Linked DNA regions of Homo sapiens. The protein of the gene in region 1 purifies or fractionates together with the protein of each later gene. This does not show direct contact. Each region holds a gene or a part of one and is shown on either strand. Other genes may lie near its edges.

Region 1 (6,406 bases):
TGCAGTGATGAATGAGATAACTTAGGTTTGCCCTCATAGAACTTATATTCTAGTGAGTTTTATGCTGTATGTCATTTACCCCTCCCAAGAATCACAGGAAACCAGAATTACTGTCACCGGTTTACAGATGAGGCCACTGAGGCTCAGAGAAGTTAAGGAACTTGCCCTGGTCCCAAGAGAAAAAGTGGAGGAGCCTGGATTTAAACACAGTTCTGTCCAAAGCCTGTGAACCAACAGCCTGTGCTCTGAGAAAGCAAGTGGAGAAAAGGCATTAGACACAGCCATAAGAAGGCTTTGGGGGGAATAGTTGGAGTCAAGGGGAAGTGATAGAAGACAGATTTCAAAGGTCTAAGGAGGGAGTGGGTGGAGATTGATGGAAGGCGGAGAGTTTAGAGATTGTATTTGACCAGAAAGGGAGGCAGAGGGACTCCTTGGAGATTGTATTTGACCAGAAAGGGAGGCAGAGGGACTCCTTGAAGACTGGGAATCTAGTGCCTGCTTGCAGGCAGAGGGCAAGTGCCTGAGCCTTGAGAAAGTACAGACTTGACCTTGAGAGAGTAGTTGAAATTTTGTTGCCTTCTAGGTGGTCAGCTGTAGACAGACCTTCTCCTGGGAACTGTAGGGCCTGAAATTCCCAAGGTCTTTGAGGTCGGAGCAACCTGAGGCCTCTGAGGCCAAAGCATCTGCGATTTGAGGGTGTTCCCTAGCTGGTGATTTCCATATACAAGGACATTTCGGTACCCCAAGCAGCCAGTCTAGAACCAATTGGTCTGCCCCATACCCAGCGGCTCCAGGAAGGCATCTGAAAACATGGAGCAGGAAGCTCCGTGGCTATTGCGTGTTATCCCCTAGCACACCAGCCAGCCGTGGAGTGACTCTTTGCAATTACAAACCAGCAGCTGAGTAGACGCAGTTTAAAAGTACGTTGTAAAAGTTTTATGGTTAGTGAAGATAAGTGCAAAATTAATCCCTACAGAACAAAGCAATTTAAAAAGTACATAATGAAGTGATTAGCTAGAAATGGTGGGGAGCAGAAGGAGAGTGCCCAAGAACAATTTTACTCAGGAATGGTCTTCACACTTTGGTTTTTTCAATTGCATTCAATGAGGGAGCTGTATAAAAGAGAGATTAATAACATGCACAAACGAGGTAACAATTGATGAAGGATTTGGGGAGTCAACCTGAAGGAAATTTTTACCTTCTTAAAAAGTTTGGATGAAGGGGAAAAATAGCTATAAAGGCTTTGATTGGGACAATTGGTGAACTTTGATTATAGACTGGGGATTTGATAATAGTCATGTATCAATGTTTAATTTCCTGAATTTTGGAAAAAAGCAAAAACAAAAGCCAAAGAAACCTGGAAGCTCACAATGTATGTTAAAGCTCCCCAGAGTCATTTTCTGTCTCCCTTTTGTTTCCATTTTTGTTCTTTGTTCTTCTTTAGCTGAGTCTGCATGCTGGTCGGTATCAGACCCTGGAAGGTAGCTTCTTGGCCACCATTACATTGTTATTCTAGTTTTCCTGGAAGAGACCACCAAGCAAGGCCAGAATCATTTCCTCAGAAGAACTGCCACAAACTGAGCAAGGGTTCCTTCTCCTCCTCCTCTGACACTGCTGTGGTTTTCCTTGGACAAGATCCGATATTCATAAATCTGAAGTTGCAGAAGGAGGGGTCAGGGGCATCTCCAAATACAAATGTTCTTGGCTTTGTAAAGCAATGCAAAGGGCAGGGTACCTGTGAGCACATTTTTTTCTAGTGCTGTAGGTGCTGGTATCCAGAAATTACCCTTACACACAAGTTTTTCTATAAAGTTTGGTATCCAGAAATTACCCCTGCACACAAGTTTTTCTATAAAACAAAGCCTACCTGTATACAAAGTCAGTCCTGAAAATAAAGAGTTAACCCCTGGTGTAAATGGCCCAGGAACACCATTCACTCCTTTAGGTCTTGCCTCTCTCTCTTTCTGTCTGTCTAGTTTGGGAAAGTTCAAGAGACAGGGCTCTGGTCTCTGGAGCACTGAATGGTGGGGTGCTCTGTTTTATTCCTCAGGCCTGCTTCAAATGCTGCACATCAGGAGGTGAGGGTCTTGATGACTTGCTTAATTTTCACCACACTAGGATTGTAGTAATATAGAGAAATCATGGACTAGGGGAGGGAAAAGATTAGTAAGACCATGATTTTAAGACAGATACTTATTTGGGATTTCAGTGTTTCTAAAATCAGGTTGGACCTTATACATTTGGCATATATAAATAAATAATAAATATGTAAATAAATTTTAATTTACTGTCCAAACTAGAAGCTTTTGCGAGTGAAAGGGGGTGCTACTAATAACAGTGGAACACTAGGTATAAACCAGAATAGTCCCCAGCAAACCAGAACATATGGTCATTCTACTGAGAATTTTTTGTGCATGTTTAATCACCTCCTTAAATGCCCCATCTCCAATATAGTCACATGGGGAGTTACAGCCTCAGCATATGAATTTGAGGAAGGGGGAGACAATTCAGTCCATAGGGAGTGCTGTAACAGAAAAAACACAGTGTAAGTATCAGAAAGTCAGGGATTTTTTATATTTTGTTCTGTGGTAAGATTCCCATCTCCTACAACAAAGACTGGCACATAGTAAGTGCTCAGTAAATAATTGCTGAACTGCATTAAAGCAGAGGAGGGACATGCTCTGATGTATAATTTTAAAAAGTGGATTGGAGGGCAATACGGATTGAAGGGCAACACGACAACGCAGAAAGACCAGGGAAGAGGCTCTGGATGGAGATGCCCACACAAAAATAATAGGGACTTGGACCAGGATGTTGGCTGTGCAGATGGAGAGAAGTGATTAAATTCAAGCTATATTTAGGAGGTAGAACTGTCTGCTTTTGCCGATGTATTGGATGTGGAGAGGGAGGAAGAAGACATTGCTACAGATGAATTACAGGTTACAGGCTTCGGCTATTAGATGGATGAGGGGCAGACTAAGGGACAGATGGGGAGGCAGGGAAGAAAATCGGGAACTTCGTTTTGGACATGGTAAGGTTGAGATGCCTGAGACACATGAGAGTGAAGGTGAGACGTAGGCACTTGGGTATATAAATCTTGAGCTCAGAGGAATGTAGTGTGTTTTCCCCTGTCCCGAAAAGCTGTGGTATAGCAATAGTGAATCTTATCATCAGTGGAATATTATAGTGATAATAATTATAGCTGATACTTAGGGGCCTCTAAACTTCTTCCAGGTGATGAAATAAACTGTCTCTGTGTATTACTTCATTTAATTCTCACAGCAACTATCTTTGGAATTTATCACTTTTATCTCCATTTCATAGACAAGGAAACTGAGTGTTGGAAGGTGAAGTGAATTGCCTAAAGTCACCAGTTCAGCAAATGGGAAATGTAGGACTTGACACCAAGACTGTTTGGCCCCAGAGGCTATGCTCTGAACCATAATGACTTCCTGTCTTCCAAAAGGCAGGCTCTTGGATCCATATCTTACTGTGCTTCTAAATTATCCTGTGACCCTGAACCTTAGTTTGCTCACCTGGGAAATGAAGGGAGGTCCTGGTTAGGTTCCCTTCAGTTCTACTCTATTGCAGTATGCTGATCTCTTTTGTAAATCTGTATTAAATGAGAGTTTGCTATCGGTGACTTTCAGAGATGACACCAGTGATGATGCCCATGCTGACGATTCATTCTGATGTCTATGAAAAGAGCAAATCCTTTAAGAGAAGATGTAGCATACCAGTGTTTATAATCTGAGTTTCATTTGATTAAGAGGGGAAGCTCTTTAGAACAAATATCATTTCTGAGCGAGAGAATGTTCAGCATCTCAGCCTCATTTGTATCATTTGATAAAAGGGCCCCACTGAGCCAAGTGTGAGGATGATGCTTGAGCCAGACACATAGACACCAGACATTCCTCTGATGTCTGCTCCCCAGGCTTGGCCACATTGCCTCCCACCAACCCCATCTCAATGACACATCCATTACCTGCCATCAGTTGGCTCTATGGTGCTGGGAATGACAGAGTGTATCTACCCTGGATTTCAGAAAGAACCCTCCTGGCTTATCATGGCAACACCCTTTGGACACTCGTTTAAAGAGTCCTTCTTTGGGCCAGTGTTATCCTTTTGGGGGCATCTGGTATGGACGGCCAATTTGAATCTGACTGGGACATGCTAATGAGCCATTCATATGTGTGGGATTTGTTTCTGATTCGATTAAGCTTCAGAGAGAGGAAAGAAACAGCCACTGATTAGAGACATAAAAAAAGAAATACTTTAAGTGAGTAAGTGGTTCATCTTCATATAGGAAAGTATAAATTAAACATGGTCCAGGAGATGTGCTTTGAATAGCAGCTGGATAGCACAAGCATGTCCACAAGGAGACGGTGCCTCACAGCAATTGAAAGGGACTTAACCCCCAAAAAGGGCTCTGAATATGCTGAGTAAATAGATGAGCCCAGTTAGCTGATAAAAATGACTCTCAGATTAGAGATGGGAAGGTTTTTATTTGGATTTTAGAAAATTGCTCCCCACTCCATCGCCGCCATATTGTCTGTGTGAGCAGAAGGGAGAGCGGCCACAGCCGCTGCCGCTTCCACCACAGTGTGAAGAAAACAGGTCTGAAACAAGGTCTTACCCCCAAGCTGCTTCTGAACACAGTGACTGCCAGATCTCCAAACATCAAGTCCAGCTTTGTCCGCCAACCTGTCTGACATGTCGGGACCCGTGCCAAGCAGGGCCAGAGTTTACACAGATGTTAATACACACAGACCTCGAGAATACTGGGATTACGAGTCACATGTGGTGGAATGGGGAAATCAAGATGACTACCAGCTGGTTCGAAAATTAGGCCGAGGTAAATACAGTGAAGTATTTGAAGCCATCAACATCACAAATAATGAAAAAGTTGTTGTTAAAATTCTCAAGCCAGTAAAAAAGAAGAAAATTAAGCGTGAAATAAAGATTTTGGAGAATTTGAGAGGAGGTCCCAACATCATCACACTGGCAGACATTGTAAAAGACCCTGTGTCACGAACCCCCGCCTTGGTTTTTGAACACGTAAACAACACAGACTTCAAGCAATTGTACCAGACGTTAACAGACTATGATATTCGATTTTACATGTATGAGATTCTGAAGGCCCTGGATTATTGTCACAGCATGGGAATTATGCACAGAGATGTCAAGCCCCATAATGTCATGATTGATCATGAGCACAGAAAGCTACGACTAATAGACTGGGGTTTGGCTGAGTTTTATCATCCTGGCCAAGAATATAATGTCCGAGTTGCTTCCCGATACTTCAAAGGTCCTGAGCTACTTGTAGACTATCAGATGTACGATTATAGTTTGGATATGTGGAGATTGGGTTGTATGCTGGCAAGTATGATCTTTCGGAAGGAGCCATTTTTCCATGGACGTGACAATTATGATCAGTTGGTGAGGATAGCCAAGTTTCTGGGGACAGAAGATTTATATGGCTATATTGACAAATACAACATTGAATTAGATCCACGTTTCAATGATATCTTGGGCAGACACTCTCGAAAGCGATGGGAACGCTTTGTCCACAGTGAAAATCAGCACCTTGTCAGCCCTGAGGCCTTGGATTTCCTGGACAAACTGCTGCGATATGACCACCAGTCACGGCTTACTGCAAGAGAGGCCATGGAGCACCCCTATTTCTACACTGTTGTGAAGGACCAGGCTCGAATGGGTTCATCTAGCATGCCAGGGGGCAGTACGCCCGTCAGCAGCGCCAATGTGATGTCAGGGATTTCTTCAGTGCCAACTCCTTCACCCCTTGGACCTCTGGCAGGCTCACCAGTGATTGCTGCTGCCAACCCCCTTGGGATGCCTGTTCCAGCTGCCACTGGCGCTCAGCAGTAACGGCCCTATCTGTCTCCTGATGCCTGAGCAGAGGTGGGGGAGTCCACCCCCTCCTTGATGCAGCTTGCGCCTGGCGGGGAGGGGTGAAACACTTCAGAAGCAACGTGTCTGAACCGTTGCTTGTGGATTTATAGTAGTTCAGTCATAAAAAAAAATTATAATAGGCTGAAAAAAAAAAAAAAGAAAATTGCTCCCCAAATCCCTATGACATTTAAGCTCATTGTCATTCTCTGGCAGCACCAGTGACAGTAATGGGGGCCAGAGATCCTATTTCAAAACAAAGAAGTGATTACAGTAGATAGCGCAGGTGTCAATGGGACCCTGATTTGGAACTTGCTAATACTTCTGTCTCTGAGTTTGGGGCTTCTATAGGGTTTTGGTTCCATAGATATGCCTGGACTTGAACTAGCTTACCTTCCCAGCCTTGTGCATCGGGAAGCTGTGAGGGTCAGATCCTTCTAGATTTTGTGTCCCCTTACAAGGGTTGGAAGAGTCTGGCTGCAGCCCTGGCCTCACC
Region 2 (7,075 bases), on another chromosome or scaffold:
TTTCCTAGTTCAGTGCCTCTGCCTAGAAGGGCCATCTTTCATCGAACAAACGACTGCTACACCTATAGAAGCCGTTACCAATGTCTCTGCTCAGACAGACCCTTTAAGAAGCAGATTAAATGCCACCTCCTCTGTGAAGTCTTCCAGAATCCCTCAAGCCCAGTTAACTGCAGGCTCTCCTGGAACGCTCTACTCTCGTCATGGCTGCCCTCACACTGTGCTGAAAAGCGTCGTTTGCGAGTGTCTCCCTGGCCAGGGCGTGGGCCTCCAGGACGGGAGTGGGGCTCGCATCGCTGGCTCTTCCTCCTCAGATGCAACCCACTCTGGCCATGAACATGCTGGGTTCTCTCCCACCTCCTGCCCTGAATTCCCCTCAAACAGGATGTTAACTGGAAGCCCCTAGGGAAGGAAGAGGCAGGGGATGAGAGGCTACAATAAAAGCCAAATCTCCTACTATGACCTACCTGAGTGGGCCCCTGCCTATTTCCCCAACCTTATCTACAATCCTCCTATAATAACAAGCAAATGGGTATCATGCGTTCTGACAAAACACTACGTCCTAAAACGTGGCTGGCTGCCACATGCCAATCCCTGCCTCAGACCAATGTGCTTTTTTTTTTTTTTGAGACGGAGTCTTGCTCTGTTGCCCAGGCTGGAGTGCAGTGGCGTAATCTCGGCTCACTGCAAGCTCCGCCTCCCGGGTTCACACCATTCTTCTGCCTCAGCCTCCTGAGTAGCTGGGACTACAGGCGCCCGCCACCACACCCAGCTAATTTTATGTATTTTTAGTAGAGACGGGGTTTCACCATGTTAGCCAGGACGGTCTCGATCTCCTGACCTCGTGATCTGCCTGCCTCGGCCTCCCAAAGTGCTGGGATTACAAGCGTGAGCCACCGTGCCCGGCCCAGACCAATGTTTAAAGGCACCACGGAGAGAGGTGATTCTACGTGACATGGCTTACGAGGGCCTCACCCAGGAAGAGGCCCACAAATGCCTACCTTAGGGCTTTTTCAAACTGTGGGTCTCAAGCCATTAGTGGGTCATGAAATCAATTTATTGGTTTGCAACCAGCATTAAAAGAAGGGGAAAAAAGCAGTCTAAAAAGTGTCAGGATGAATTGGATACAGTGATCTTAAAAATGTTTCGTTAAACTTTGTTTTGTTTAACATGTGGGGCCCTGGTTATGATGTAAAATATAGTTAACTGCAGACAATATTCAAATAAAAGGACGAAAACAGTGTTCTCTCTCTTTCATGCCTCTGCTCTTCAACCAAGCCTGACCTGTTCTTACCTCAGGGTAGCTGCATTTATATTATTCTGCCGGGACAGCTCTAGCCCACTTCTTCACAAGATTGGTTTTTGTTTTTTTTTTTTTTTTGAGATGGAGTCTGGCTCTGTTGCCCAGGCTGGACTGCAGTAGTGCAATCTCAGCTCACTGCAAGCTCCACCTCCCAGGTTCACGCCATTCTTCTGCCTCAGCCTCCCGAGTAACTGGGACTACAGGTGCCCACCAACATCCCCGGCTAACTTTTTGTATTTTTAGTAGAGACAGGGTTTCACTGTGTTAGCCAGGATGGGGTTTCTTTCTTTTGAGACAGTCTTGCTCTGTCACCCAGGCTGGAGCACAGCGGTGCTATCATGGCTCACTGCAGCCTTGACCTTTCAGGCAAGGGATCCTCCTGGTTCTGCCTCCCAAGTAGCTGGGACCACATGTATACACCACTATACATGGCTAATTTTTTTTTAATTGAGATGGGGTCTCACTATGTTGCCCAGGATGGAAGGCTGGTTTCTTCTCTGGTCCCAACTCAAATGTCACTCTGTGAAAGGCCTTTCTTGAGTACTCCATTCAGAGGTTGCCTGCTGCCTGCTTGTGTGGTCTGCAAGCTAAGAAGGGCGTTTTTTTTTTTTTTTGAGACGGAGTCTCGCCCTGTCACCCAGGCTGGAATGCAGTGGCAGCGATCTCGGCTCACTGCAACCTCTGCCTCCAGGGTTCAAATGATTCTCCTGCCTCAGCCTCCCCAGTAGCTGGGATTACAGGTGCACGCCACCACACCCGACTAATTTTTGTATCTTTAGTAGAGACGAGGTTTCACCATGTTGGTCAGGCTGGTCTTGAACTCCCGACCTTGTGATCCGCCCACCTCGGCCTCCCAAAGTGTTGGGATTACAGGCGTGGGCCACTGCACCTGGCCAAGAATGGCTTTTAAGCTTTTAAACGGTTGGAAAAAAAAAAAACTAAAGAAAAATTTTTCATATGGAAAAATATGAAATTCAAATTTCAGTGCCTATAAAGTTTTATAGAAACATAGCCATACTCATGTATTTGCCTATGGGGTACGGCTGCTACTACAATGGCAGAGTTCAGTAGGTGCTTCAAAGATTGTATGTTGCAAAAAGCTTACTTACCATCTGGCCCTTTGCAGAAACAATTCATCAACCCCTGTTCTACTATAATCATTACCGCATAACTGTTTTCATTACCTTCAAGTCCTTCCTATGACCTAAAATTCTAGTCTATTGTCTTCATTTACTTATTCTTCCCAACTAGAATATAAATTACAAGAGGCCAAGGGCTTTGCCTATCTCTGCCTCTGCTGTATCCCCTGTGCCAAGCACAGTGCCTGAAACACAATAGGTGCTCAGTAAGTGCCTGAATGAAAGAACGGTGGAGGTGGAAGGCAAGCAACTAGGCTTAAGGACCACTGGGGGCTGCATCAGCCACCACTGCCTAAAAGGCGGGGGCCCAGGAAGCTTGCTAAGTACCAGGAACCATGCTCTCCACCAATTTTTGAAGACCTTGCTCACCCGAAGAGTCTTCATCCACGTTCTCGTACTGCAGAAGTCGGTCTAGGAGGAAACTGAGGGGAGGGAAGGAGACACGGACAGTGATTTTCCAGCGCAGCAATGTCCTCCTGGGTACCTGTCCCTCCCAGCTGGCCCATCGGATACTTGAAAGAGCCCATGCACTTGTGGCCCTACTCGGGGATGGGGTCCGAATGTAGATTTCCTAGGAAGCACATCGCCCTCCGCCCCTGCAACGTGCCTCACCTCTTGTCCCGGGACACCTTCAGTAATTTCCTTTGCGCTTTCCTCAGCTCCTCCTGGAAGCACTCGTGCTCCTGTATCACGGGCAAGGGGTGCGCTGGGCCAACGGTCCTCCGTGAAGGGCCCCGGAACCAGCGGCCGCTCGCCCCACCCACTTTACACCTGGGTAAACTGAGATCTTGTCCGCGCCAGGCCTCATCCCCCACAGCCTTCCCGCGGCAGCACTCACGTAGATGAGGAACTTGAGCTTCCGCTTCAGATTCCGGTATTTTTTTTTGTAGTCCACTTCGCCGTCCGCCGGCCCGTTCATGACCGGCCCGGGAGTGGCGCCCAGAGTCTGCCCTCCCGCTACCCCAAGCAGTGGCTGCCGTGCCGCTCCCGCCTCCACTTCCGGAGACGCTGCAAGGCTGTGCCGTCAGGACTACAACTCCCGGCGTACCCCGCGCTCAGGGGCGTCACCGCACGGGCCGACCTCCCGGGGGACACTGGGACAGGAGCGCGGCAGCCACTGCGCTGGGGATGGCGTAGCAGCGACGCGGTGACGCCACAAAAATGGCGGACGCTGGAAAGCGCCGTTCCTGACTCTAATGTACTTAGACACTTGAAGCCACAAAAGGATTTATCCCCGAGGTTCCTCATCTGCTCGCGAGGATGCCTTTTCTCTTCTGCCTTGCGAAATAACAGCAGCCTAGCTGTTGCCCGTGACCAGTGAGAAAGGCAGCGTCGCGGGCTGATTAGGTTTCACCCAAAGGGTGCCGGCGCCGAATTGGTTTCTAACGAGAACTTTTAAAATGATCCGTTCCAAAAAAGGGTAGGAGCCGCGAGACCCTCCAACTGCCCAGAGAAAACAAGTCTCGTCTGGCAAAGTTCTCGGCCCACGCGGTCCGCGGCCAAGGGCCAACGGTCCCTCGCCCCACGTTGCCGCAGCACTGCGCGTGCGCGAGCCGCTGTCAAACGCGCTGACGGAGGCCGAGAAGAAAAAAAGGCGGGAGCCGTCAATCCCGGGTTGAGCAAAATGGCGCGGGAGAAGGAGATGCAGGAGTTCACCCGTAGCTTCTTCCGAGGCCGCCCGGACCTCAGGTGCCCAGGGGGTTGGAGATGGGGTTGGAAAGGGCGCGGGTGGGTCGGGACTCCGTCCTGACACCATGTCCCTGCAGCACGCTTACGCATTCCATCGTGCGGCGGAGGTACTTAGCTCACTCGGGCCGCAGCCACCTGGAGCCCGAGGAGAAGCAGGCACTGAAGCGGCTGGTGGAGGAGGAGCTGCTGAAGATGCAGGTGTGCCGGGCCGGAGCCTGGGCCGCGGGAGGCGGAGGCGGGGCTTGCTGCTGAGGAGGAGGGGCCTGACGGGGCGCGGTGAGCGCAGCCTTGGTGCATAGTTTGCCCTCTTGGCGCACACACAGGTGGATGAAGCCGCTTCCAGGGAAGACAAACTGGACCTTACCAAGAAGGGCAAGAGGCCTCCCACCCCTTGTAGCGACCCGGAGAGAAAAAGGTTCCGCTTCAATTCAGAGTCGGGTTAGTGCTTCCTCCCTGCTGTGGGGGCCTTCTGCATCGTTGGTTCACTCAAGAAGCATTCACTGCGCATCTCTTATGTCCCCAGGCGTTAGATGAGGGAGCAAGGCTAGTGAGTCAGGAACCGGGAACAGCAAGTACAGATAGCTGTTTCCTGCTGCCCCTCCAACTGTCAGGGCAGGGCTCGAGGCAACCTATCCGAAGTGAAGGGAGAAGGGACAGGAGGAGCCTGTCTCAACCCTCTCTCCTCTCCATATTCCAGAGTCCGGCTCTGAAGCCTCCAGCCCAGACTACTTTGGACCCCCAGCAAAGAATGGGGTGGCAGCAGAAGTCAGCCCAGCCAAAGAGGAGAATCCAAGGCGAGCCTCAAAGGCAGTTGAGGAGAGCAGTGATGAGGAACGGCAGAGGGACCTGCCCGCACAGAGGGGAGAGGAGAGCAGTGAGGAGGAGGAAAAGGGGTACAAGGGGAAGACTAGGAAGAAACCTGTGGTAAAGAAGCAGGCACCAGGCAAGGCCTCAGTCAGTAGGAAGCAGGCCAGGGAAGAAAGTGAGGAGAGCGAGGCAGAACCCGTTCAGAGGACAGCAAAGAAGGTGGAGGGAAATAAAGGAACTAAAAGCCTGAAGGAAAGTGAACAGGAGAGTGAAGAGGAGATCCTAGCCCAGAAGAAAGAGCAGAGAGAGGAGGAAGTGGAGGAGGAAGAGAAAGAAGAGGATGAGGAAAAGGGGGATTGGAAACCCAGAACCAGGAGCAATGGCCGGAGAAAGTCAGCTAGGGAGGAGAGGAGCTGTAAGCAGAAAAGCCAGGCAAAGAGGCTCTTGGGAGACTCAGACAGCGAGGAAGAGCAGAAAGAGGCAGCCAGCAGTGGGGATGACAGTGGGAGAGATAGAGAACCCCCAGTGCAGAGGAAGAGTGAGGACAGGACCCAGCTTAAGGGTGGGAAGAGGTTGAGTGGAAGCAGCGAGGACGAGGAAGACAGTGGGAAGGGGGAACCCACAGCTAAAGGCTCTAGAAAGATGGCCAGACTGGGCAGCACCAGTGGTGAGGAAAGTGACTTGGAGAGGGAGGTAAGTGACAGCGAGGCAGGGGGAGGCCCCCAGGGGGAGAGGAAGAACCGCTCTTCCAAGAAGAGCTCCAGGAAAGGCAGGACACGAAGCTCCTCTTCCTCCTCAGATGGAAGTCCAGAGGCCAAAGGAGGGAAGGTGAGGGTGAGGAGGGGTGGGAGGCCACTATTAGGGAAGAGGGAGACCCTGCCTCAGGCCCAGCAGGCTTGGCCTTCAGCTGCTCTTTCCTTGCTAGGCTGGCTCAGGTCGCCGTGGAGAGGACCACCCGGCTGTGATGAGGCTGAAGCGCTACATTCGGGCCTGTGGTGCCCATCGAAACTACAAGAAGCTGTTGGGCTCCTGTTGCTCACACAAGGAGCGCCTGAGTATCCTCCGGGCAGAACTGGAAGCGCTAGGCATGAAGGGTGAGGCCCGGCGTGCCCTGGGGGCTGCAGGAGAGGGCCTTCCTGCTGGGGAGGAGAGAATCACCAGCTTCTTCTGCCCCAGGTACCCCTTCCCTAGGGAAGTGTCGGGCCCTGAAGGAGCAGAGGGAGGAGGCAGCTGAGGTGGCCTCCTTGGATGTTGCGAACATCATCAGTGGCTCGGGTAAGGGGTTTCCTCTCACTGCCCAGGAGCAGATAGGTGGGGTTGGACCTTCTCAGACATCTGATCTCTCGTTTCCCCTTTCCCCTAGGCCGGCCACGCAGACGTACAGCCTGGAACCCTTTAGGAGAAGCAGCACCCCCAGGGGAGCTGTACCGACGGACCCTGGACTCAGATGAAGAGCGGCCCCGTCCCGCACCCCCAGACTGGTCACATATGCGTGGCATCATCAGCAGTGATGGCGAGAGTAACTGAGCTCTGCCACCCCCAGGAGGGACCCTTGATACATGTACAAAGCATACATAGCACCCCTTGCCCTGTGTCTGTGGAACAGAAGCAGCTTCCTTCAGAGAAGACTGCAGCTCCCAAGGACACAAGCTGTTGGGATGCTACTTCTCAGCTTCACGCTGTCCCTTTAAGGTGTTTATTTTTTAAGACTCAATAAAGGAGTGTTTTTAATCACCTCATCAAATTTGGTCCCCCATTCTCACCTCCTGTATTTTGGGCCAGGAAACTGAGCAGTAGTCACTGCCTCCACCTCCTCCCCTGGCCTGGTTCCCTTTAATTTCCCCCGGGTTCCTGGAAGAAGTCCCTGCCTCCAGACCCTGTCATCCAACAGCCACCAGACCCTTTTGGAGAAGGGTGTGTGGCTCCTGTGCTGCCCGCCTACCCCGTGGCCCCTCTGCTTTTAGCCTAGTCTGATAACCTAATGCCCACTTGGGAGAGGGATAGAATGACTTGAGGGCAGCCAGTGCTTAAGCCTTCTCCCTTATGCAAACAGCCACTTTGTCCATGGGCTGTTAGCCTCAAAGGGGTGGGGAAAAGCCCATACCTCCTGGGCCAGTCCTAGCCCTCTAGGCCTCTGGCT
Region 3 (7,024 bases), about 110 Mb from region 1:
TTAACACAGCCACCACGAATTGACTAGTTGAGTGTTTAAATGAAACTATGAAGAGACACAGATGAAGCCACCCCTTCATGCAGTGAGCTGTGATTGCGCCACTGCATTCCAGCCTGGATGACAGAGCAAGACCCTGTTTCAATTAAAAAAAAAAAAAGTTCCCACTCAGATGCAGTTGGATGTTGAGAAACTGTCTCCAAGCCAGAGAAAGAGATGTAGGAGAAAACGCACCGACACACACACATAATGTTTCCCCCAGGATTAATTTTTATGTGTGTGTGTGTGTGTGTGTGTGTGTGTGTATGATTGACATGGGTGTATTTAAATATATACATATATTGGCCTTGACTCTAGCCCAAACAAATGGCTGCATAAGAAAATTGAGTGGATTTATTATTTAGAGTTTCTTCTCTTCTGAGAGTCTGTACCCCTAGTATCACTCCTGATAACTTATTTGAGCTGTGGTCCTCTGCCTTCACTTGCCATCAGTAATAGTAAAATGATTATGTGTTTTAGTCTCTACTGGCAGGTTTGAGTTTTCAGTTCACAGCTGCTGTCATTTTTAAGTAAGACACAGGGTCATTCATATGCTTCGCAAATGCCCTCACAAATAATTGTAAGAATTGGGCCTGCCGAGGAGAGTCTGCTAACTGTGCTTGTCCTGATCGTGGTTGGCCAAGCCAAGCCAGGTGGCGCTGGTCAGAGAAGTCTGCAGAGAGCAAGCAAAGGGTGGAGCAGGGCAGTATATGGTTTGGCAGAGAGGCAGATGTGTCCCAGGCAGGGTGAATGTTGTCCCAGGCAGGGTGGATGTTGCACATAAAGGCCAGAGATAGGAGGGGGAGGTCCAGGAGAGAAGGAGGTGATACCTCCCTCAGGCACTATGAGGTCCAGCATAGAGAGCTGCGGCCCCCAACTCTGCCAGCCTAGAGTCAGGGCCCCAAATCTGCCATTCCAGGCACTTCTCCTTAGTCAGAAAGCTGGAATCCTAGCTCATTGTACTCTGCCAGCTGCCTGCTTCTTAAACCATACCTGAAACTGTGGGCTTGGGAGCTCTCAAATTATTATTATTATTATTATTGTTATTTTTACTCCCAATGGAATATTGTTCAATTTTTATTTTTTATATTTTTAAATTTTTTTATTATACTTTAAGTTTTAGGGTACATGTGCACAACGTGCAGGTTAGTTCTATGTGTATACATGTGCCATGTTGGTGTGCTGCACCCAAATTCTTTAGGAAGTCTATCGGTGCAAACATTTTTGAAATGGGATTTTTTTTTTTAAAGATAATGATTGCTTCTGTTTTTCTTCATGCCCTTGCCCTCCTTTCCACACACTTATCCCTGCCACCTTCTCCCCTTCCTCCCAGTCTGAGACTCATTCATGGTCTCTGCCTCTGATCTTAGTTCTTTGACATCCCTTTGCCTCTCTCTGGAGACTCTGAACCCAATGAGAACAAACTTTTCTTAGAACAGTGTTTTTTTGGGAGGACACATAGGCACCCGGTGAAATAAGAAAACACTGGAACTAATGCATAGAACTGCAGGCAAACAGATTCCACCTCAGGTTGGGTAGTCACACGCTTAGGTGAGATGACCTGTAAGGTTCCTAAAACTGTGGGAACGTAAGACTCTACCCATAGGAACTGTCCAGCTATGGAATGGGCCACCTTTGAGGTCGAACCTCATTCTTGGAAGTGATCCAGTAGGGTCTGTAAGGCCACAGTTAATACAAGAGGAGATTTCTGTGCAGTGTGGTGGGGCACCGGGTCAGGGGACCTCTGGGCATTCATTCAGAGTGCTAATCAGAAGCTCTGGGATCCCCTTGGCCCCAGAGTCACATGGGTTTATGCCACTCAGTGCTGGACCTTTTCCATAAGAGCAAAAGGTGAGACAGTTACCATCCTCTGGGAGCCAGTTGGTCACGTTCTACAAACCTCTGTTGAGGGATTGGGCACTGAAAGGCCAGTTCCTGGCTTTGTTAAAGTCCACATTCCTAGGCAGAAGACTGGTGTCCTGCTGAGACCCCCAAGGCAGATGGGGGTGGTGGCTCGCCTCTCATTCAGCTAAGGAGAGAGGAGTTTCTCCTCTTCTCCAGGGGAACCAGCCCGGCTCAGTGCCTCTGTGCAGAGTCGGGGGACCTGAGGGAGCAAGGCTCAGTCGTTCCTTTTCTCCCCTGAAGCCTCTGTGTCCCAAGGAGCTCTGGCACTTTGTTCACCAGTGCTATGGGAACGAATTGGGCCTGACCAGTGATGACGAGGACTACGTGCCCCCTGACGACGACTTCAACACAATGGGGTGAGTGAGGCCAAGGGCGGCTGCCCAGAGGCAGCCGTGCGAGTGCCTGCAGGAAGAACCTGCCAGGCAGAGGGAACAGCACACATGCCTGTGCAGCCATGGAATGAACTGTGGAATGAAGGAGGGAAAGTGGTCACAGGTGAGGTCAGGGAGCTCGAGGGGGCAGAGCCTAAGGGCCTGGCCATCTTTATGGTTGGCTTTTACTGAGAGTGGGATGGGAAAGTTTGGCAAAGATAATTGCTAAGGTCTGATTTAACATTTCAGCAGGATCACTCTGGTCTTTGCACTGAAAATACATTAAAGGGGAACCAGGGCAGAGGCAGGGAAACCCGTGAAGAGGCTGGTGAGTAATTTAGATAGTTAGATGAGGGATGGTGGTTGTTTGGAGAAGTGGCAATAAGTGTTTAGTTCCTGAATAGATTTTGAAGGATATGTTGATGGAACAGAAAGGAACCAAAGGTGGCTTTCAGATTTTTTCGGTTTTACTGCCCAGAAGGATGGCATTGTTCCAAACGGAGATGGACAGTACTGTAGGCAAAGCAGGTTTCAGGGGAAAGATCAGGAGGGTAGTTTTAGGCAAGTTGAAATTGAGATGCCTGTTAGCTAAATGGAGATGCCAAGTGGGCATTTAGATATGGAGTGTGGAGTGCACAGGGAAGCCTGGGCTGAGGCCATAAACGCAGCAATTATTAGTGGATAGTCATGAGACTAGCTGAAATTTCAAGTGACTCGGTGAACCTAAAAAGGAGTTCAAGGACTGCCTGGGAGCACTCAGTGAGGGAAAGAAGCAGCTGAAGAGAGCTTGAAAGCACATGCAGTGAGGGAGGAAGGCCCTAGGAAGGTTTCCTATCCTGGCAGCCACGGGAAGGAAGTGAAGCAGAAGGTATTGTCACTGTATCACATGCTGTCGATAGGTTAAGCAAGATGGGAAGATGTGCCTGTAGACTGGCACAAAGCATGCTTGAGGGTGGAAGGGTAGCTAGCTGCAAGCTTGGTGGTCGTGCAAGAGGCATACAGGGAAAAAAGCAAGAAAAGAACATTGAATGTCTGTTGTGCTTAGGTCTGGGCTCAGTCGAAATAATAGTGTTGTCGCTTAACCTCTATGAATACCCATTTGGTTATCTCCAAAATGCACATAAGGATTTCCGGAGAGTTGTCAAGCATCTGGATTTGTTAAGTACAGGTCAGATGATGGTGATGATGATAGGCTGATGATTGCTCCCTTAGAGGAGGCTACAGCGGCATCCCTGAAGTGTTCCTCGACGAGCACCCACCTTCATCTCAAGGAGGTTTTCTTTCTAGGTGTATAATGCAGGGAAGTTTTCTAGTTATCATCAAGAATTTGGGCAATGCCACTTAAGGAGCGCTCATGTCCAGAGTCCTGTCTTCGTCACCGTTTGGGAAAGGAAATGCATGCTCAGAACCCAGATATTTGATTCAGAGGCTTCAAATAGGATGGGCACCCATGGAAAAAAAATAGCTTAAGACAAATAATCCTTTCAGTTAGGTAGGGATAACTCTAAGGAGGCTGCCTAGGAAAGGTGAGTTTGCAGCCAGGAATTTTACATGGGGGGCAGGGAGGGGTGGGGTGGGATATGAAGGAGATTTCAGAAGAGCAATGGGGTAGGCAGGGGATTTTTGGTTAGAGGAAGATCATACACAAAGCAAAGAAGCAGGAAATCTCATAGATATGGATGGATAGAAAGGTCTGAGATTCTTAGAATAGTTGGCCATCTTGAACCACTGAGGGTAATGTGGACTCACTGGTGTCTCCTCTCAGATACTGTGAAGAGATCCCTGTGGAAGAGAATGAAGTGAATGACAGCTCATCCAAGAGCAGCATAGAGACCAAGCCAGATGCCAGTCCACAGCTGCCCAAGAAATCCATCACCAACAGCACACTAACATCCACAGGGAGCAGTGAGGCCCCCGTCTCGGTATGGGCAGTCAGCCTTTGACTTCTACCCCCAGTCCTGTGGCCAGCGTTTCCTAGCATAGTTCACTGGGAACCCAATCTGGGGAGCAGGTAGAGAGGAGATTGGTTACATTGTTGTCAGTTTCTTCAAGGAGGCATTCTGGAGCAGATGGGCTCTCCGTATTCTAGTGGCATAGCCCGGGGTCCAGAGCTGGGGCTAGGTGCCTGGGGTACAAGACTGGGTTTGACTTCTGAGCAGATGAAAACCATTTCAAGCCCACTGTGCTGGGCTGCTGCTGATCAGCCCTTCTGGTAGAGAACAATTCCAGGTATTTTTTCACTGCCTTGATCTGACGTCAAAGTCATGCATGAATATAGAACTATAGAACAATTAATTGTTTATCCACTCATTTGGTTGATATTTGTTGAGTATACGTATTGTGGCTTATTTCTCCACTGTGGTAGACTTTATGGAAGCCATAAAAATGTGTAAGAGAACCTCTGTCCTGTGGGACTCTGTTAATAGAGGAGGTAGAACCTTGATGAGGAAAGAGGGTCAGGGCATGTGCTGGCAGGCAGAAGAACAGGTAGGGTTCTTCAGGAAAGGACTCCCTCAAAGAGCCTTGTATTTCAGTAGGCTATGGATCAGACCACCTGCCTTCAGAATGAAAACATTATTCATTGGATACCTGGTCTTTATTTTCCATCTCTGAGGTTATCTTTAAAATGTAAAGAGTTGTATCGATTCCCTTCCAGGGCTAATGAGAGAATGAGTTTTAAAAAATGCTTATGAAGCCTTTCGAGCTTCTTAGGATAAACAGGTACTACCTGGAGGCAGGCTGACCTTGTTGCAGGATGGTGCAGGTGCGGCTCCAGGAAAGGGCCTGGGCCTGTGGGGACCAGCTCTGTGCATTTGGGGAGCTTGTTGTGCTGTTGGAATGGCGAGCGTGAGAAGTGCAGTAGTCCTTGTACTGTGTTTGCCCATCCTCTGTGGCAGCTCTGGGGAAGGGCTTTGGAGCCTGACTCTGACTTCGCTCCTGAGCAGCTGAGCTGGGAGTATGAGAGCTGCCAAGGCTGCATCCCTAATCTCCCTTTGGAGAATAGATCCAGACCAGGTTTCCCTGGTGGGTGACTCCTCTGTCTTGGCTCCAGTTTGATGGGCTGCCCCTGGAGGAAGAGGCGCTGGAGGGAGACGGGTCCCTGGAAAAGGAGCTCGCCATTGACAACATCATGGGGGAGAAGATTGAGATGATCGCTCCTGTGAACTCCCCTTCACTGGACTTCAATGACAATGAGGACATCCCCACTGAGCTCAGTGACTCTTCCGACACACACGATGAAGGTGGGCATTTGAAAATGGGTCTGGAGTGGCCCTTGCTCTGTTTTGAAGGCTAAAAGGAGATCTCTATGTGGGGACTGTAGTTAGTCTCTAGGTTCCTGGTGGAGAGATGGGAGCAGAGCTTCCTTAACAAAAGGTACCTGTTATTAGTTTACATCCCTGTTTTCAGTCATTTGCTGTAGGAGCCTCCCATAGATAATGCTTTGTTCTGTCATTTAGTCTTGTCACTAAATGTTCCCCCTATTGACATTGGCTTGCCTTGCGACCCTGACCCTCACAGACACGCAAGTCTAGGCAATGTTTATAAGCCACAAGGAAGGTGCCAGTCAGCTGCTCCCTGGAAATAATTAGATTTTAACAGAAACGTCCTCAAGATAGCTGCGAAACTTGTTAATGCAATTTTTGCTGCATGGGGTATTTAGGCCCAGCTAGAAGAAAAGGTGTTGCTGGGTCAAATAGGGTTTGGAGACTCCCTTGTTTCTCTAATTTTTGTAAGCAGGTAGCTTCTAACTTCATGCCTGCATAGGATTAGCTTCTAGAACCTCCCTTGGGAACATGCTGCTGCTTACCTTCCATGGAGAGAAGCCAAATTCTCAGCATTCATGAAATCAATTGATGGATTTCCTCCATTGAGTGAGTGGTCTGTTATGACTGGTGAGCATATGAGCACGGTGCTCACTTGTGGATCTGTGGACACCTCTCCCAGGGGCCACCTGCAGTGGTTTTCTAACTTTTGGTTGGTTTACCCACCCCCATCTAGAGTCCAGGGTTGGCACAAGTGACTGCATGGGTTAGATACTGCCTAACTCCAGGGTGCCTTTCACATAAACTAAGGTGTGAATACCCGCTGCGCTGCACTTGTGCAGTACCCATCTGTGCAGTCATAGGACTTGACCCCTACAGGGTACTTCAGAGTTCTCTGGTTTCCTCAGGGTCCTAGGGGTGCCAGAAATGGCAGCCTCCTCCTGAGATCACATACCCACCCATGCAGGTGCAGTAATTAGGGACTGAGGGGTGCCAAGGGTTCGGGGGGGAGCACTGAGGCTTTAGCAGCTCTCCTGTATCCTCATTTGCATCCTCCTGTAGCAGCTGGAAAATTCAGATTACAGGTGAAATTCCCTGGCTGGCAATCTTCTGTATATGGACACAGTGATGTGCCAGAAGGGCTTTGCATCCCTGAGACTGAAGGAAGCTCCATTTTTGGAGCCCTCCCACACCTTGCTCTGTGTGCCTCTCATTCTGATTTGAATTCTTATTTTGCTATATGATGAAGCTGTAATCCTAAGTTTAAAAAGGGGAGTAGGTATTGACATCATGGTAGAAATAGGCTGTCTTATGGAACTGTAGTTAGGGATCACAGCCTATTGGACCAGCCCCAGCCTTAGCAGCAGTTCTGTACACTGATTCTTCCAGATTAGTCTACGTTCCCTCGAACAGACCTATGCCATGGGTTACAACTACAATTTGTTGTCG
Region 4 (7,849 bases), on another chromosome or scaffold:
TTCATGCGATTCTCCTGCCTCAGCCTCCCAAGTAGCTGGGATTACAGGCACACACTGCCACGCCCAGCTAATTTTTTTGTATTTTTAGTAGAGACGGGGTTTCACCATGTTGGCCAGGCGGGTCTTGAACTTCTGACCTCATGATCTGCCCACCTCAGCCTCCCAAAGTGCTAGCATTACAGGCGTGAGCCACCGGGCCTGGCCTCTCAAAGGCTTTTTTATTCAAGTTGTGTTTCTGTCTTATTTGCAGGTCATTATTTGTAAGATTAAGGCAGGACCTATGTCCTCTTTGAATTGCCTGATGCTCCAAGAACATTGCTATAAATGTTTTTAACTTTCAATATAATACAAACATTACAACATGACATTTCAGGCATTGTTATTAGGATAATATTAGGATAAAAGTTTTCCAAATTAATATTAGAAAACTAGATCTATGTACTGTATCAATTCTTTGTCTTTAATGCCTTAATTCAAGTAATCTACTTTTGAAGGATTATTTACAAACCAAAGCCAAGTTGAAATGTACTAACACTGGTTAAAATTCTGCAATTCATACTTTTAAACAAAAGATCCGCCAGACACAGTGGCTCATGACTGTAATCCCAGCACTTTGGGAGGCTGAGGCGGGCGGATCTTGAGGCCAGGAGTTGGAGACCAGCCTGGCCAACATGGTGAAACCCCATCTCTAATAAAAATACAAAAATTAGCCTGGCATGGTGGCACGCACCTGTAATCCCAGCTACTCAGGAGGCTGAAGCATAAGAATCTCTTGAACCCAGGTGGCAGAAGCTGCAGTGAGCCAAGTTGCACCACTGCACTCCAGCCTGGGATACAGAGTGAGACAGTCTTAAAAAAAAAAAAAAAAAAAATCCTTTTGTAATGCATATTTTACAAATTCATAATTTCATCATTTTTCTTAAAGCAAACTAAAACATAAATTCATTATACACAATTGTAAATTTATCCCCAAAGTGTTTTCTAAGGCTTCCAATTTTTAAATGAACCAAGGAACTGAATATTGACAAATGTATAAGTACCCTGAATGTGTTATAAAAAACATATTTGACTGTCTTTAAAATGCAGTAACATTCTAAGGAAAATACAGTAGCATCTTTCCACAGATCAGAGATTCAATAACTATTATGATTCAATCAAAGAGAAATAAACCATGGCCATTTTTAATTAAACAGGCATTTCTAAGCACCTGTGTACACGGTATTGCTGTTCAAACGGTTGACATGGAATGTGACCGCAATAACTTGATGTCCATAATTAAAGACCCAAAAGGTAGCTTAAGTTTCATCTATTTCCTTTCTCAGCCCTTTGAGCAGGTATATTATAGTCACTCCATACACGGTTAATATTAAAAAAAAATAAAAGTAACAAACATTTGAAATTAGTTGTACTTTTATAGAGAACAGTTTTAAATTGCATGGCCTTACTTTTCCTATTCCAACCTATTTTATAAAACTAGCATGATCTTAATAATTTCACTGCAAAACAGGTTCTAGCAAGCATAGAAACTGATCATAGCCTCTCAGCAAAATCAAGTTTAGATGAAACTCTAGGAAATTAGCAAAATTTAACAATCAATTCACCCACGATTCTCCACAATTCTTGCTCTCTCTAGATACGAAGGGAGGCAAAAACTGTTTTAAAGGATTATTTCAAAAGCAGCACTAATTTTGGGAAAAACTTAACTGCCATGCAGGAGACACTGTATTACTACTCAGACGTCATTTAAGTCTTCTAGCAGCAGAAAGGCAAAAACATCATTAAATTTTTTATTTAATGCATATATACTTACATTATCAGTTAAAGTTTACCCATCTGTTTACGTTGTCCAAGTTACCTATTATTTCAGAAAGCATTTAAATAAAATGAAATTAGGTTACGTTCTGCAACGCAGATGTGTCTCATAAAGAAGAGTGTTAAATGACTTTTGTGAATGGAAAATCTGCATATACTGTTGCTTCGCCTCAGCCAGTCTTGAGTGGGTGGTTCAATGAACCTAAAGCATGCTGCCTGTGAAGCTCCTTGGAACCTGATTCCACTCTTGAGAGAGGGCTTAGAAACAAACATTAAATTTAAAAGCACAGCAAAGGCTTGGCTTTCCTCCTACGTTACAAGAAGGCCGGGAGAACTGAGGCTTAGAGGAACAACACCGTGTCGCTTGGCTCTGCAAAGGCGGGTGCGGTCTGCGGTGCGCGGCACAGCCTTCTCTGGGGCTGTCACAGGAAAGAAGGAGCCTCGCCTTAACCGCACCGAGCGACAAAGCGCCAGCTCTCCTGGGCGCGGGGGCTCCCAACGAGGCCCATGCCATCAACCTATCAAACTTCAGGAGGGACAGACACCCGGGGCGGTCGAAATGCTCCAACAGCCTCCCACCCCCGTTCCCCTGCCGCGGCTTTTGTAAGGCTGCAGATGCACCTACTGTGGGCCCCTAAACACTCCACCCTGCCAGCCTTTCCAATCCCCCTACTCCAAAAGGGAACAAAGGAGCCAAAGAACTCCTCGGCGGGGGTGGCCAGGAGTCCCCGACAGCCCGAGCTCAGAACGTGGCAATAAGGGTGCGCAGTCGCCCTGAGGGGTGCGAACCCAGCACCCCAACCTCAGGAATGGAGCAACACTCACCCGTGCGGAGCTCCCAGGGAGGCGGGACGCAAGGAGCCGGTTCCTCCGAGGTCGCCGCGGCGCCGGGGTCCGAGGCCCCGTAAGCGTCTAGTCAGACCCCAACTTCTCTCGGCCGCTGTCGTCGGCGGCAGCTGGGGCGCGAGCCTGGACGAAGGGCGCTGCCCAGCGGCCGCGGAGGCACTGCCGGCTCAGCCCCCGAGCGGGGCGGGAACTTTCGGCCCCGAGGTCCACCAGCCCGGGCGGACCCCCACCTTCCCTCAGTCGGCTTGCTACCGGCAGCGGCTACTGCGGCGTCCAAAGCTAACACTACAGCCGCCGCCTGGCCAGGAGCGCGTCGCGGCCTAATGTTGTCATCCGCCGCGTCGCCGCCTTTCTGGGCACCCAGAACCGCGAAGATCCTTCACATTCTAGTGCCCTCCCCCTGCCCCGCCCGCCCCCCGGATCACGGGCTTCGGCCACGCCCTCTTCCCGTCACGTGACGGTGCGCGGAGGCGGTGGTGGAGTTGCTTCCCCTGCTAGGCGGGCTCGAACCGGGCGGGAGTCACTGTCCACCTTGCTTCGCCAGGGTGTTATCGCCAGCCAGTCCCCTTCCGCATGCCCAAGGGCAGCCTCAGGAAGCGAGCCCACCACCGTCGGCCCAGCGCCTGTTGATCGGCCAGGCCTTCTGGGCCGGTCATACTGGGCCCTTCCTAACCTGAGGAGATTGCACAGTAGGGCTCCCTGGTCTGGTCAGGGCTCAGTTAGGACCCCTCTCCAGCCTTAGGCTTGGTGAAAGCTTTAGCGAAACAGAAAAAAGAACGCATCGTGGTGTAGAGTGTATGGCCTAAGAAGCATTCGGTAACTAAACTACTTGTTCCTATTTCTAGTGGCACATTAACCGTGGCATTTAATTTACTGCTTTCCTCATTAGAGGTTTTTTTTTTTTTGAGGAAACGGTGTATTTCAATCATGCTGGGATGAAAACAGCCTAGCAAACTTATTTTTGTTCCTTGTTATGTTCAGGATCCTGCTGCCAGTTTTACAGTCATTAAGTTTTACAGTGTGTTAGGTTGGTGACAGTTTAAACGGGTACGCAGGAATTTGACAGTTTGTTCCATTTTTTAAAATAAAGCCTAATTCTTGATTTTTTTTCTAATGCCTTAATTTTTTTTTCCTAATTCCTTAACTCTAGGACTTAACCTTTTGCTTTCTTTTTTAGCCATGATCCGAAGAACCCTCTAGCCGCCTAATGAAATCCTAACTATACAGAAGTAAGGGAGGTAGAATAAAGATCATACTCAAACCCTGATCACAATGAAGGCAAATGAGAAAGCTTTCTGTAATAATTAAATTGGGGTCATAACTCATTTTCCCTTGTAGCCCAGAACTAAGGATTTTTTTCTTAAGCTATTCTCATCTCATTACATTTTCTTAACAAGAAATCAGAAGGCATTCTGATAAGCTGGATACATTGAAATGAATAAGCAATAGAGTTTGGCCTATATAATTATTATTAATATATTTCATAGCAGCTCTAAAAAAATCATAGACTTACATTGTTTTATGTTACCCAAGAAAGAAAACAAAGGCTGCCAATGAAACTATGCCATACCGCTGATATGTAAGGCACCTTTAAGCCACATCTTTTTCCTTTTTTTTTTGAGACAGGGTCTCACTCTGTCTCCCAGACTGGAGTGCAGAGGCGCAATCTCGGCCCACTGCAATTTCCGCCTCCCGGTTCAAGCGATTCTCCTCCCTTAGCCTCCCAAGGAGCTGAGATTACAGGCATGCGCCACCATGCCCAGCTAATTTTTGTATTTTTAGTAGAGAGGAGGTTTCACCATTTTGGCAAGGCTGGTGTTGAACTCGTGACCTCAAATGATTCACCCGCCTCGACCTCCCAAAATGCTGGGATTACAGGCATGAGCCACCGCGCCCGGCCTGAGACACATCTTGAATTCAGAGATGTAAACATGTCAGAAACAACGAGTCTTAGAATCTCTGAGATATTGTCATGAACTGGGAAACAACGAGTCTTAGAATCTCTGAGATATTGTCATGAACTGGGAAACAACGAGTCTTAGAATCTCTGAGATATTGTCATGAACTGGTGTTCCAAAGAGGAAAAGATTCTACCAGGTTCTGTTCTGAAGCCTGAGAGACTGTAGTACAAATAAATGTGAAGGAAGTTTATTATTCTGTGACATTATTTCAGCAAAGCTAGTAACTTTGGAGTTTGTTAACAGATTAACTTGTCTCCTGTTTTCTAGAGGCATGTTTTTCAACCTGCAACTCAAAAATCAATTTCATTTTTATATGAAATAGGCTAGGATGTAATACAATATAAAATACCAGAGTGCATAATGTCTAGTAAGGGCAAAAATTGCTTCCTGAAACTTTTTGTTTCAAATATGGTGGAAGGTGAGAGTATGTCCTATGTTGTGATTTAAACAATTTCTTACTGTGAGTTGCAATCAAATAGATTTGGAAAAGAATGTTCCTAGAGCATAGATAATATGCAAAATACACCATCTGGACCCCGTTTTTCTGGTACTTTTATTTTACTTTGGAAACTGAGACTAAAGATTAGAAAAAGGTGGCAAATTGCCTTGCCTAATTCTCTTCTGCCTCAGCCCCAATTTCATACATTGGCTTTTGAAAATTTGATCATTTGTTGGAAAAAGCAATGTACTGGAAGCAAGGAAGCCTAGGTTACAGACTTAGCTAATGAGATGTATGACTAGATAAATTACTCCCTGCATTTCAAGTTCCAATCAAGTAGGACCACATGCTGTTTGAGAAATGATACTAAACCACCTTTTTTTTTTCCCGGTGGATGGCAATCACATTGGAAACAAACAGACACGGTATACTCAGGATTATGCAAATTACTGACAGCCTACGTTTAACTTCTTTCAGCTCCACTCAAAAAAAAGAAAGTCCTAATGCAAGTAATTGAAAGTGAAGATATTGCAAAACAAATGTAAGTATATCTTTCACAATCTTCTCTACTTTGATTATCACTAGTATAATAGTTACTTGTCATGAATAACTAATGATTTTGACATACTTAACAACTGATTGCAACACAAAAATATATTAATCCACTACAGTTGAAAAATCATTTTTTCAGATCCTTTCAAATCTGATATTGTGATTCCAGGAATGATAATTCAATCTAGCATTTTCAATGTAATGACAACATAAACAGAAACTAATATGTGATCCTGCACTGTAACTGAAAAATATTCAGTAACTCCCAGAGATGCCCTGCAAGTTTGCTACTCTTACAATGATTTTAAGAATGACATTTTGAAATAAAGCTTTTTTATTATAACGATCCGATTTTAACTCCAATGAGAATTCATCTCTTTTGCCTACTGCTTTATTAATTATACATTTCTAAGAATGGGAAGTTCTTTCCAAATTAGTTTAAGCACTGACAGGCTTGACAGCCTTTCCCACAGTATATTTCAACCCTGACCTAGAATGACAGAGATGTTGCTTGAGGTTGTTTGCTTTTTTCCATTTGGCTTATCCCATTAGACAATTATGTTGCTGACAATTACTAATCAGGATTCTAGACTAAAATCCTCATTTTCTGGAAGAGAATTTAGATTAAGAGCAACCTCAGCCATAAATAAGGTATTCAACACAGCTTTGAAGACTTGTATTCTTGTTGGTCATGTGATTTGCTTTAGCCAGTGCTTTGTGAGCAGATGTTAAATGCTAAATCAAAGCAGAGGCTTTAAATTTGATTGCAAAATTCAGGTCAATCTCTTACTCTTGTGCCACCTGCCATGAGAAAGGTATGTTCCAGATAAGATCTCAGAATAAGAAAATAGATGGAGCAGACCTGAAACTCTCACCCTGTACAGAACTGAAGCAACTGACTTGCAGCTCCTGACATACGGCTACTGATGTGAAACAAGAGTAAAACAAAAATATTTGTTGTTGTGAATCACAAATATTTTTGAGATTGTTTGTTGCGTAGCATAATCTTGCAAATCATCTAAAGTGAATTTGAGCCAACAAACTCATGAGTCAAAGGCTAAATGTACTGTGGAACAATAATATTTGTCTATTTAATAAAATAAATAACAGACATCTACAAACTAGTCAACCAGCTATTTGGTAAATATCCACCTAAAATTTATGTTAAGAAGCAGTCTTTATAAAATCTGTAAATTTGCATGCAAAATGTTTGCATGTAAGATATTTACATACTGATTTTAAATATTTCTGTTTAGTATTATTTGTCTTAAATATCCCTTGAGGAAAATTTGGATAGTAAAGTATAAAGAGAATATAGGATTCTGTTTCTAGAAATATCAAGGACTAGTTCACACTTGTCACACTGAAAACAAAATCCCTGGAAAAAACATTTTTTAAATCTTATTAAATATATTGATTAACTGACAATAGGGTAAGAAATTATTAAGTTAAAAAACTAAATGAAGGCAGGAACCTAGAGTTTAGCAGAGTCAGCCAACTTTTATCTCAAGGGCATGTGCTAAACCCAGTTACTAGGAGCATTGGTTTTCGTGACCTTGTAAGAAAGACACAAAACCCATTACCTGCATTATACACACACACACACACACACACACACACACACACACACAAACAACTGCAATTCCAAGGATTATTAATTTGATGTAAGGATATACTAGAAATAAACTTGCTGCTTACTAGCATAGGCACCCATCCCCCAGAATCTACAAAGAAAATTAGCCGTCTTAAACCTTGGCACCTGGTGGACAGGGGAAAAGCAAAATCGTATCTGAGAATTTGGAACTGCAATCCAATTCTCACACAAAAACGTAGCTTGAATTCATACTAGCTGGGTGGTCCCCAAAAACTTCAGGCTAATAATTAAGATTTTTTTTTTTTTTTTTTTTTAGACAGGGATTCTCTGTCGCCCTGGCTGGAGTGCAGTGGCATGATCTCAGCTCACTGCAACCTCCGCCTCCCAGGTTCAAGCAATTCTCCTGCCTCACCCTCCCGAGTAGCTGGGACTACAGGCACGTGCCACCACGCCCAGCTAATTTTTTTATTTTTAGTAGAGACAGGGGTTTCACCATGTTGGCTAGGCTGGTCTCGAACTCCTGACCTCGGGTAATCCGCCCACCTCCGCCTCCCAAAGTGCTGGGATTATAGGCATGAGCCACTGTACCTAGGCGTAATTATGAATTTTTGACTGATAATGCTCTCAGAAACCTGGCAGAAGCAA

Evidence for each region.
Region 2: the proteins of CSNK2A3 (region 1) and HIRIP3 purify together in Homo sapiens (affinity purification with mass spectrometry; 2 studies listed by BioGRID and IntAct, with this or other methods). This does not show direct contact.
Region 3: the proteins of CSNK2A3 (region 1) and GRAMD1B purify together in Homo sapiens (affinity purification with mass spectrometry; 2 studies listed by BioGRID and IntAct, with this or other methods). This does not show direct contact.
Region 4: the proteins of CSNK2A3 (region 1) and OSBPL8 purify together in Homo sapiens (affinity purification with mass spectrometry; 2 studies listed by BioGRID and IntAct, with this or other methods). This does not show direct contact.

The regions. Positions count from the first base shown.
Region 1 is NC_000011.10:11,351,427-11,357,832, reverse strand, and holds CSNK2A3 (casein kinase II subunit alpha 3), read left to right. Parts: upstream 1-4,582; 5' UTR 4,583-4,713; coding exon 4,714-5,889; 3' UTR 5,890-5,891; downstream 5,892-6,406. UniProt on the Homo sapiens protein: Probable catalytic subunit of a constitutively active serine/threonine-protein kinase complex that phosphorylates a large number of substrates containing acidic residues C-terminal to the phosphorylated serine or threonine.
Region 2 is NC_000016.10:29,992,594-29,999,668, reverse strand, and holds the start of HIRIP3 (HIRA-interacting protein 3), read left to right. Parts: upstream 1-4,051; 5' UTR 4,052-4,063; coding exon 4,064-4,128; intron 4,129-4,205; coding exon 4,206-4,326; intron 4,327-4,451; coding exon 4,452-4,566; intron 4,567-4,825; coding exon 4,826-5,763; intron 5,764-5,860; coding exon 5,861-6,029; intron 6,030-6,111; coding exon 6,112-6,210; intron 6,211-6,298; coding exon 6,299-6,462; 3' UTR 6,463-7,075. Other genes in the region: INO80E (INO80 complex subunit E), read right to left, coding at 2,809-2,861, 3,052-3,122, 3,278-3,358. UniProt on the Homo sapiens protein: Histone chaperone that carries a H2A-H2B histone complex and facilitates its deposition onto chromatin.
Region 3 is NC_000011.10:123,601,245-123,608,268, forward strand, and holds part of GRAMD1B (protein Aster-B), read left to right. Parts: intron 1-2,181; coding exon 2,182-2,297; intron 2,298-4,077; coding exon 4,078-4,234; intron 4,235-5,364; coding exon 5,365-5,554; intron 5,555-7,024. UniProt on the Homo sapiens protein: Cholesterol transporter that mediates non-vesicular transport of cholesterol from the plasma membrane (PM) to the endoplasmic reticulum (ER).
Region 4 is NC_000012.12:76,556,760-76,564,608, forward strand, and holds the start of OSBPL8 (oxysterol-binding protein-related protein 8), read right to left. Parts: upstream 3,013-7,849; 5' UTR 2,638-3,012; intron 2,250-2,637; exon of another isoform or gene 1,813-2,249; coding exon of another isoform or gene 1,811-1,812; intron 1-1,810. UniProt on the Homo sapiens protein: Lipid transporter involved in lipid countertransport between the endoplasmic reticulum and the plasma membrane: specifically exchanges phosphatidylserine with phosphatidylinositol 4-phosphate (PI4P), delivering phosphatidylserine to the plasma membrane in exchange for PI4P, which is degraded by the SAC1/SACM1L phosphatase in the endoplasmic reticulum.